2 separate regions of the Homo sapiens genome follow, and region 2 is linked to region 1. The links come from fine-mapping of genetic effects on gene expression. A gene starts in region 1. The other region holds a variant in brackets. All regions are shown on one strand. Distances are from middle to middle.

What was found.
Region 2: its variant is fine-mapped to the expression of DCP1A in whole blood (GTEx, PIP above 0.99).

What each region holds. Positions count from the first base shown.
Region 1 is chr3:53,344,767-53,350,145 of GRCh38, reverse strand. It overlaps DCP1A (decapping mRNA 1A), which reads left to right and starts at 2,603. Exons shown (of 10, transcript NM_018403.7): 1 at 2,603-2,763; 2 at 5,204-5,244. The coding sequence starts at 2,629. RefSeq lists enhancers at 2,109-2,878, 2,414-3,004, 3,005-3,595.
Region 2 is chr3:53,372,728-53,378,106 of GRCh38, reverse strand. No RefSeq gene overlaps it. Among named protein-coding and RNA genes, the nearest start is that of DCP1A, 28 kb to the right of the region's middle. RefSeq lists a silencer at 2,824-2,873. The variant C/A (reference allele first, on the strand shown) is at 2,234.

The DNA.
Region 1 (5,379 bases):
TATGTCAAGGGCTATGGTCACTCATAGTTGGATCAGAATAAATTTCTTCAACTATTTTACAGAGTTTGACTCTTCTCATCAACACAATGACAAAAAACAGTGGTCCTGGGATATAAAATCATAGGCAATACAAATATTTAGTGTTATTTTCTTGAAAATATGGTTTTATCTTACAAAAATTTTCAATTCTGTTGGGGATGTCAATTTTTTTTTCTTTCCAGACGTAGTCTTGCTATGTTGCTCAGGCTGGTCTTGAACTCCTGACCTCAAGTGATCCCCACCTCAGCCTACCAAATAGCTGGGACTACAGTTACATGCCACCATGCCCCCCCCTTTTTTTTTTTGGATGGAATTTCTCCCTCTGTTGCCCAAGCTCTGGAGTGTAGTGGTGCAATCTTGTGTCACTGCAACCTCCGTCTCCTGGGTTCAAGCTATTCTCATGCCTCAGCCTCTTGAGTAGCTGAGATTACAGGCATGTGCCACCACGCCCAGCTAATTTTTGTATTTTTAGTATAGATGGGGTTTCACCATGTTGGCCAGGCTGGTCTCCAACTCCTGACCTCAAGTGGTCCACCTTCCTCGGCCTTCCAGAGTGTTAGGATTACAGGCGTGAGCCCACACATCTAGCTACCATACCCTTTTTTTTTTTTTTTTTTTGAGTCTTGCTCTGTCGCCCAGGCTGGAGTGCAATGGCACCACCTTGGCTCACTGCAACCTCCGCCTCCCGGGTTCAAGTGATTCTCCTGTCTCAGCCTCCCAAGCAGCTGGGACTATAGGCGTGCGCCACCACGCCCGGCTAATTTTTGTATTTTTAGTAGAGACGGGGTTTCACCATATTGTCCAGGCTGGTCTCAAACTCCTGACCTCAGGCGGTCTTCCCACCTTAGCCTCCCAAAGTGCTGGGATTACAGGCATGAGCCACCACGCCCAGCCTCCATGACCTTTTTAACGAAAGAAATGTTGCTTTTTAAGAAGTCTGGCGGGGATAGAACTCCCTATAGTCTCCATGATTTGTTTTACTTGTTAGCTAGTGCCTAACTCTTTCAAACGCTTTAAAATGCTCAACAGACACTTACCAATGAAATGAGTGATCTGCTTAATGCTTTAAATGAAGCAAGACAAATTAAACCCTTCATGGACTCTTCCCAGGGCTGGACAAAAATATTTATGTGGGTCAGACGCAGTGGCTCACGCCTGTAATCCCAGCACTTTGGGAGGCCAAGGAGGGCAGATCACCTGAGGTCAGGAGTTCAAAACCAGCCTGGCCAATGTGGTGAAACCTCGTCACTACTAAAAAAAATACAAAAATTAGCTGGGCGTGGTGGCGGGCGCCCGTAATCCCGGCTACTCTGGAGGCTGACGCAGGAGAATCGCTTGAACCCAGGAGGCAGAAGTTGCAGTGAGCTGAGATCGCGCCACGGCACTCCAGTCTGGGCGACAGAGCGAAACTCCATTTCAAAAAAAAGAAAAAGAAAAAGAAAAAATTAGCCAGGTGTGGTGGCGGGCGCCTGTAATCCCACCTAATTGGGAGGCTGAGGCAGGAGAATCGCTTGAACCCTGGAGGCAGAGGTTGCAGTGAGCTTGAGATTGTGCCACGGCACTCCTGCCTGGGCAAAAGAGCGAGACTCCGTTTCAAAAAGAAAAAAAGAAAAGGGCCGGGCGCGGTGGCTCAAGCCTGTAATCTCAGCACTTTGGGAGGCAGAGGCGGGTGGATCGCCTGAGGTCAGGAGTTCGAGACTAGCCTGGCCAACATGGCGAAACCCCGTCTCTACTATAAACACAAAAATTATCAGGGCATGGTGGCGCGCCCATGTAATCCCAGCTACTGGGGACGCTGAGACAGGAGAATCGCTTGAACCTTGGAGGCGGAGGTTGCAGTGAGTCGAGATCGCGCCACTGCACTTCAGCCTGGGCGACAAGAGTGAAACTCCGTCTCAAAAAAAAAGAAAAAAAATCCACTTGTACCTTCTGCTAATCAGTGTATATATTCAAGGCAACTTGAATCTATGCTCCTGGGGTGCAATCCTCAAGCTTGGCCCAAATAAACTCTCTGCTTGCATTTATTTTGCCCCAGAGTCTTCTTCCTTTTAGGTCGACACATCCATATCTGAGACCTAGGGTAATTTTCTGGGCTTCTCGCCTCTCCCTTTCCCCCATGTTTTTCTGTGCTCTCTAAACGGGCCCGGTAGAGTCCCGCATTTCCACATTCCACAGACATGTTTTCCTTCTGTGGCCCCGGGCCCTGCCAGACAGCGCACCGCGAGGCCGGCACTTCGGCGGTCTCCAACCTTTGCCTGGAAAGAGCTCGGCAGGCGAGCTAGAGGCCAGATCCCAGGACCCAGTCGTTTTAGCTCAGGGAAAGGAAGCGCCGGAGCTCCAGCCTGCAAGCTCCACTACGCAGCCTTGGACACCGCCCACATCGTAGGGCCGCGGACCCTGACAACGCCGGAACCCGGCGCCCGGAGCGTGCGCGCGGCGGACCAGAATGGCTGACGTACCGCCCTGCCGCGAGGCCCGCGTAGAGGCGGAAGTTGAGGGGACTGACGCAGATGGGGGAATTTTGCCTCGATGGCACTTTCCTGTCCGCGACTCCGCCCCCACCAGAGGGGCTAGGCTCTGGGATTCAAGATGGAGGCGCTGAGTCGAGCTGGGCAGGAGATGAGCCTAGCGGCCCTGAAGCAACACGACCCCTATATCACCAGCATCGCAGACCTCACGGGCCAGGTCGCTCTGTACACCTTCTGCCCCAAGGCCAACCAGTGGGTGAGTGCCGCCTGGCCCTGAGGACGGCCACCCGGCCGCTGCCGTCTCTTAAAGGGGCCGCGCGGGTTACTGTGGGGTGGGGGGGCACACTAAGAGGCCAGGGCGGTGGAGACGAGGCCAGGGTCTGGCCAAGAGCCTAGCCAGAGCCTGAGGGGTGTCGGGTCCGCTTGGGATTGGGGGATAGGAGTGAGAGAAGTGGCTCGAGACATCCCAAGGAAAAGCCAGTGGAGGGGAGGATTGGAGCAGGATCAGTCCCTTGGCGTCGGGTCTGGGGACGTGGGCGACCTGCCTTCTTTGCAGATACATTGGGAGTTATAAGACCGGTGGGGTCAAAAGGGTGCCTGAAAGCTTGTGTTTGAGGCTTTGCGGATTATTAGATAAATTATATGTACATTATCTATAAAATAAACACTCCTCCTCTCCCCCTGGCAAACGTAAATGAGAGCCCCTGTCGCAGAGGTCATTTGGGTTTAAAGTTTAAAATCCAATTAGTTTCGATTCTTGGAAGGAGGGGGTGGGTGGGTCCGGCTTTAATCGAACTACACAGAGTTTCGGAAAAGATTCCAAGGCACTTAGGAAAAGGGCTTCCGTGTTCACTGGATCCCCGAAGACCTTTGTACAAACAAGAGAGACCCTGTAAATGTGTTTTGTTCCATCTATGATGCTGGTGATGTCATCTCTGAATGCTCCCCTCGGACTCAGTACTTTCTGGCTTTCGTGCACTGGGGAGGGTCCGAAAAGTCACATTCAGTGTGTTCACTGATTCTTGTTAGCCCCTGCTTGAAGCTTTGTTAGTTGTTTAAAAAGCATAATTTCCCACTTTCTTGTAATTGACCCTTCCTAATTAACTCATTCAGCTACAGGCTTTACACTTAGAAAGTAATACGTAAATGCTTGTTGGATTGAATTCACCAATGACTGGAGTTCACATTTCAATAAGATACGAAATCCTTAAACTGACAGAACTCTGGAAGATGACCGTAGTATGTCGTTTACCCTATAATACAGTTGCATAGATTATATTTATCAGTAATTTATCGAAAATCATTTGGCATTTATGAACAGTTAATTCAGATGAAGAGTTTTTATAATCACGTTGTTTATCTTTGCCTCCTGGAAGAGAAGGAGATATGGGAAGCCACAAGGAATAAAATTGTAGATTGTTTTTTAAATGTAGCTATTTTAGACATTGCCTTAGTTTGAAATTTTATGAATCTTTTTTCTTTTCTTGGCCTATATATAAATTTTGAAATATGGATTGCCGACAAATGGTGAAGACTTGGGGCTAGAGTTTTCCTAGTTTTTCACAAAGGCTTTCAATATTTTAAAATTTTACATTGTGGAGTTCTGTTTTAAATATGAAATACAAGCTATAATAACCTGAATTGAAAAATAAGCTGCTACTGTTTATTTGGATCCTGGCACATAGAGCATGACAAAAATCTTTTCCCTCTTTATTATTTTACAGTGAGTTGTAACTTTGCATGATGTTTTTTGGTGGGCAAATTTTCTTTTACTGTAAGACAGTTGATTACCAGTTTCTTATAGTAATAACCTAACATTTTAAAGGTAAGAAAAAGCCTCTGAATCCTTAGGAAGGAAAATAATGATATTTAAGCTAGGGTAGTACTTCTGGAAGAAATCGAGATGATCAATTTTCTAAATTTTTTAATCCCAACACATTCAATATATGACTAACATTTAAAATGTTAATAATGCGTTGATTACAGTAAAATATTTAGGTCCATTGTAGGCTGTAAATTGCAGACTAATAAGCTTATTTATTTTTTAAAAAACACTGAACTGTGTTTAAAACCTAAATACACTCTTGTCACAGAAAATGAACTATGGTAAAGGCCTCCAATAATTACACTGAGGCAGGGTATACTTTCAGTATTCAAGATTCTTCAAGTTCTAAAAATAACAAGCTGATTTTGTTTGGTAGTAATTCTTAACCACAAAATTTGCTAGTTGTCAAAATGTACGAAAACTCCCTAGTGATGAAACAAAGTATCCTATAAGAAAGTTTCATTCCTTTCCTTTTTTAAAATTAACTTGGATAAACTTAAAAGAGAAGAAATTGCAGTATACAGGACCTTAGCTTTAAAGTTAAGAAATCTGGCTAAAATATTTTAGCTATAAAAAGTGAAGGTTTATTCTATGATTTTCTCCTTTACTAATTAAAAAAGAAAAATACTGCAGATACAGATATGTTGCTGGATTAAATATTGCATATGCTTATGCACTGAAAGGATACATTAGAAATGGTAACCACAATTTGTGGAATGAGAGGGAGACTTTACCTGTTCAAAAGTGGTTAATTTTATAATAGATGAAATGAAACAAGTTGATCTTAAACGTGAAGCATTACTTCTCCATGGGGACTATTTGGGGTCTGATTATGGGGAAAAAAAACTAATTGAGTCATTGTCTTTCATAGGAGAAGACTGATATAGAAGGGACCTTATTCGTATATCGAAGGTAAGTTTTTAAAATATGTATATTTGTTTTTAACAGTCTAGTGGTGAACAATGTGAAACGGTTCAATTCTCTTGTACATTTGTCTTTGGAACCGTCCTGCTAGTACCCTTCAAGTTTTCATCTTTCCCTAGCTGT
Region 2 (5,379 bases), 28 kb before region 1:
AGACAAGGGGGTAGCTGTGATCATGAGAAGGGGTCAGATTCTGGATATATTTTGAAGGGAGGACCAAGAGGATTTGCTGATATATGCAATACAGGGAGTGAGAAAAACAGAGAAGTAAAGCATGACGACAAAATGTTTGGTCTGAGCCACTAGAGGGAAGGCTATGGGATGAGCAAGTTGAAGGACAGGAAGGTGTGGTGACTCGGGAGTCCTGTTTTGGTCGTGTTGATTTTGTATTGCATATTAGACATCCAAGAGTAGATGAATAGATTAGCTCTGGAATCAGAGGAAAGGTCCAAATTTAGGAGTTGATGCCATATATGTGTATGGGGTTTAAGCCCCTGAGACTGGAAGAGGGCCCCTGGAGAGTGAGTATGAAGAAGAGCAGAGATGCCCCAGCCCTGGGGCCTTAAGACAGCAGGAAGGGCCAGGCGCAGGGGCCCTCGCCTGTAATCCCAGCACTTGGGAGGCTGAGGTGGGTGGATCACTTGAGGCCAGGAGTTCAAGACCAGCCTGGCCAACGTGGCAATACCCCGTCTCTACTAAAAATACAAAAAAATTAGCTGGGTGTGGTGGCACACACCTGCAATCCCACTACTTGGGAGGCTGAGGCAGGAGAATCACTTGAACCCAGGAGGTGGAGGTTGCAGTGAGCCGAGATCATGCCAATCACTCCAGCCTGGGTGACAGAGCAACACTCTGTCTCAATAAAAAAACAAAGCTGAAAGAGAGAATGGGAGGAGAGGACCTGGAGAGAGACAGTACAGTACAGAATCCTCTTTAGAGAACCCAATGAATGAAAGAAAGCAAAGAGACAAAGAAGGTAGGGTCAACACAGGGTTTTCTGAAAATGAGGCCTCTGCGGAACCCTGTGTTTGCAGGAGCTAGGCACCCAAGCTCACCAGCAGTGCCTGTCCTACCAAGAATCAGAGGCCTCAGTCACCCCTCCGAGGGTACTACTGTGGGGCTGAACCCAGAAACTTCTCCTTTAACTTCAAGTGCACAACAGTAATAAGTGCTTTTATTTTTAGAGTCACTTACTATGCACCAGGCTCCCTAGACATCATTATTACCCCAACTTACAAAGGCAGAAGCAAAGACTTCTGCGAGAAAGGCAAGAATTAGGGAAGGCCTGCATGTGAGGAGAGAATGATCCAGTGGAAAGGGGAGAAAACTGGGAGAGGGGACAGTTGCTGGGGCAATGCTCTCCAGCGGTGCTGGCATGAAGCAGTTAGCTGCAAATAAATCCAGCAGCATGGTCTCACAGGACAGCATGCCAGGGACACAGATTTCTTAGGGGAGGAAAACTGTCACTGGGTTTGTTCTATTTAAGGGACCCAGAGAATGAATCTGTGATGCGTCCTCATCCTTGGGCAGCATCTTCCTGTAAACACTCTCCTATGATCAGGCCTTAAATCAGCTATGATTATTCTTCATTAATAACAGTCCCACCTAACAACTACACAGTACCCTCTTCCCAAGAGTCTTTCAATTTTTAAAATTATTTTTAGTTTTTCAAGAGGAAATGACAGAGAAAACAAAACATAATCCCGCTGTACAGATATATATTAATATATAAATAATATATAATATTAATATATATTTCAATATATATTATATATTACATAAAATATATATTATACATACATTTTTATAGTTATATTTTTATATAGTATATATTTTTATATACTTCATATATATGATTTTTTTTTAATTTTTTGTGTGTGTTTGTGGTAGGGTCTCACTCTGTCGCCCAGGCTGGAGTGCAGTGACACAGTCTTGGCTCACTGCAACCTCCACCTCCCGGGCTAAGCGATTCTCGTGTCTCAGCCTCCTGAGTAGCTGGAATTACAGGCTCACACCACCACAACTGGCTAATTTTTGTATTTTTTGTAGAGACAGGGTTTCACCATGTTGGCCAGGCTGGTCTCTAACTCCTGGACTCAGGAGATCTGCCCGCCTCAGCCTCCCAAAGTGCTGAGATTACAGGTATGAGCCACTGCACCCGGCTTATATATATATATTTTAAGACAGGATCTTACTGTGTTGCCCAGGCTGGAGTGCAGTGTCACCATCACAGCTGACTGCAGCCTCAAACTCCTGAGCTCCTCCCACCTCAGCCTCCCAAGTCTGGGACTACAGGCAGGAACCACAGCAGTGGCCCCCTGTTAATATTTTTAATAGAAATAATAAAATGAAGAGTAAAGCCTCCCTCCCCTGTCCTAGTCTATTC[C/A]GTAAAGATAACCACAGCTCTTTATTTTTCTAGAAAAAAATTGCATATATCACCTATATGTTTGAGTAAAAATTCATACACAAAACCCATCATGCTATAAATTACTACTCTGCACCTCAGTCTTAATATATCTTGGCAATTTTTATCTACATATTTATTTTAACGGTCATGGTGCACGTTTTAAAAAGTGCTTTGCCAGGCCATGCAGGTGGCTCATGCCTGTAATCCCAGCACTTTGGGAGGCCGAGGCGGGCAGATTACCTGAGGTCAGGAGTTTGAAACCAGCCTGACCAACATGGTGAAACCCCATCTCTATTAAAAATACAAAAATTAGCCAGGTGTGGTGGTGTGCGCCTGTAATCCCAGCTACTCGGGAGGCTGAGGCAAGAGAATCGCTTGAACCTGGGAGGCAGAGGTTGTGATGAGCCAAGATCGCGCCACTGTACTCCAGCCTGGGCGACAGAGCGAAACTCCGTCTCAAAGAAAAAAAGAAAAGCGCTTTGCCATTTGTCATATCTTAGTCTCATCGAAACACATTGAGAAAAGAATACTTTATTTTGCAGATAACAAAATTGACCCAGAGTGACATTAAGTGACCTGTCCAAGGTCTCCCGGGAGTTGGAAGCTGAGGCAATAGTAGACACTGGGTTCCTGTCACTCCCTGTACCACAGCGCCTCCCAGTGGCGTCCAGGTGACATTTTTCACCCACAGCACTACTGGGGCCATCCAACACACCCTCTTCCTCCACATAGTCCACCAGATCTCAGGAAAATTTTCATCCACATTATTAAGACCATCCCATAGTCAAAAGCAATATGTCTCTTTTTTTTTTTTTTTAGATGGAGTCTCACTCTGTCGCCCGGGCTGGAGTGCAGTGGCATGATCCCAGCTCAATGCAACCTCTGCCTCCTGGGTTCAAGCAATTCTCCTGCCTCAGCCTCCCGAGTAGCTGGGACTACGGGCACATGCCACCACTCCCAGTTAATTTTTGTATTTTTAGTAGAGATGGGATTTCACCATGTTGGCCAGGCTGGTCTCAAACTCCTGACCTCAAGTGGTCAGCCTGCACTGGCCTCCCAAAGTGTTAGGATTACAGGCATGAGCCACCACGCCAGGCCCCACTGTGTCTCATTTTTACAGACTTTCTTTATTCATGAAATAATTTTTATAGCCATTGCATTGGGATTTAAAATTCTAAATAGAAAGTTAAGTTGTACATCTTATAATATCTAATATTCTAAGCCTTTCAGAGTGGAAAGAGAAGATATGGATGCTAGGGTAAGTTACTTTTGATCAATTTTTTTTAAGTCCAATGTACAGAGTATGTTCAAATGTCTGTGGTTCTTAACTTTTTTGTGAGACACGGACCCTTTTGTTGAAAATCTGATGAAAGCTACCAATCCTCTCCGGTGACAAAAGCACAGACACCTAAAATCTTGCCTTCAATACCAAGGCATTCATTAGAACTTCTAAGGACCATCCACAGGCCCCAGGTAAAAAAGCATTGCAATAGGGCCGGGCGCGGTGGCTCAAGCCTGTAATCCCAGCACTTTGGGAGGCTGAGGCGGGCGGATCACAAGGTCAGGAGATCGAGACCATCTTGGCCGACATGGTGAAACCCCGTCTCTACTAAAAATACAAAAAAAATTAGCCGGGCGTGGTGGTGGGCGCCTGTAGTCCCAACTACTGGGGAGGCTGAGGCAGGAGAATGGCGTGAACCCGGGAGGCAGAGCTTGCAGTGAGCGTAGATTGCGCCACTGCACTCCAGCCTGGGAGACAGAGCAAGACTCCATCTCAAAAAAAAAAAAGCATTGCAATAATGATTTAGTCCCCCGATTTTGCTATACCAAGTATATCTACATTACCAGCAGTGTCACAACATGCTTTTAATTCATTCTTACTTTTAACATATATGCCAAATCTCAGCTAAGTTGGCTATTTGTGGGTATATCAGTATAAGTTCAATTAGCACAGAAAATCTGAAAACCCTGAAATATTTTCTTTCAGTTTTTTTAGAGAATTAACTTTTCCATTGACAAGGCTGATCAACAAAAAGACATTTAAATTAAGATTTGACTTATATTATACAATGATACTTGACACTCATCTTACACTGAAAACAAAACCAAACCAAAGGGAAGTCCAGACTTGGATACGGTGAAGAGTGGTGGAGGGGATACAGGATTCATCTCATCAACTAATCACTTCTTTCAGAAATATAATTAACCTTAGGAGCAGACAAAATTTACTCTGTGGCTTTGGGGTGGGCAAAAAACACTCCATATAGAAAATCCTTTATTCTACCATCTTTCAAATCTTCCATTCTAATTAGGGTATCCTTTTCTGAGGTGCCTTAAGAATCATCTTCTGGCCAGATACAGTGGCTCACGCCTATAATCCCAGCACTTTGGGAGGTCAACACAGGCAGATCACTTGAGGCCAGGAGTTCAAGACCCACCTGGCCAACATGGCAAAATCCCATCTCGACTAAAAATACAAAAATTAGCCAGGCGTGGTGGTGGGCATCTGTAATCCCAGCTACTTGGGAGGCTGAGGTGGGAGGATCACTTGAACTCAGGAGGTGGAGGTTGCAGTGAGCCGAGATGGCACCACTGCATTCCAGCCTGGGCTTCAGGAGTGAGACTCCGTCTCAAAAAAAAAAGCCTCTTCCTTCCTAAGAAGGCTGATTTCCTCATTGTAAGGGAGTCTGCAAATAGCATTACCGTTAAGTAACAGCAAAGTACTGTATCAATGTTTTTCTTCACATAATTAAAACAGCCTTTAATTTCCCTTTTCCCCAGGTGATGATTCCATTTTCTGGTCCAAAGTCCGCTCTGAACAAGAGTTTAGTCAGCTGCCTAAAACATTAAAAGGCTATTTTCAAACACTTCCAAAAGCTGACTCTTTTTCTGCACTATTTAATGACAAGGCGAAGAAAAGAGGGACAGAAGATAGTAACCGTAACATGTTCTCACCTCTAAGACCTTCTCTTCCCTGTACCCCACACCATCGCTAACCTCATCACTCAGAGACTAAACACCTTCTTCAGCATAAGCCCCCCTCTCTGCTGAGTCACTGAATGTTAGAGCAAGAAGCAGAGAACCGAAGCCCTTGCAGACCGGCAAGATGGCGACCCTGCTGCGCA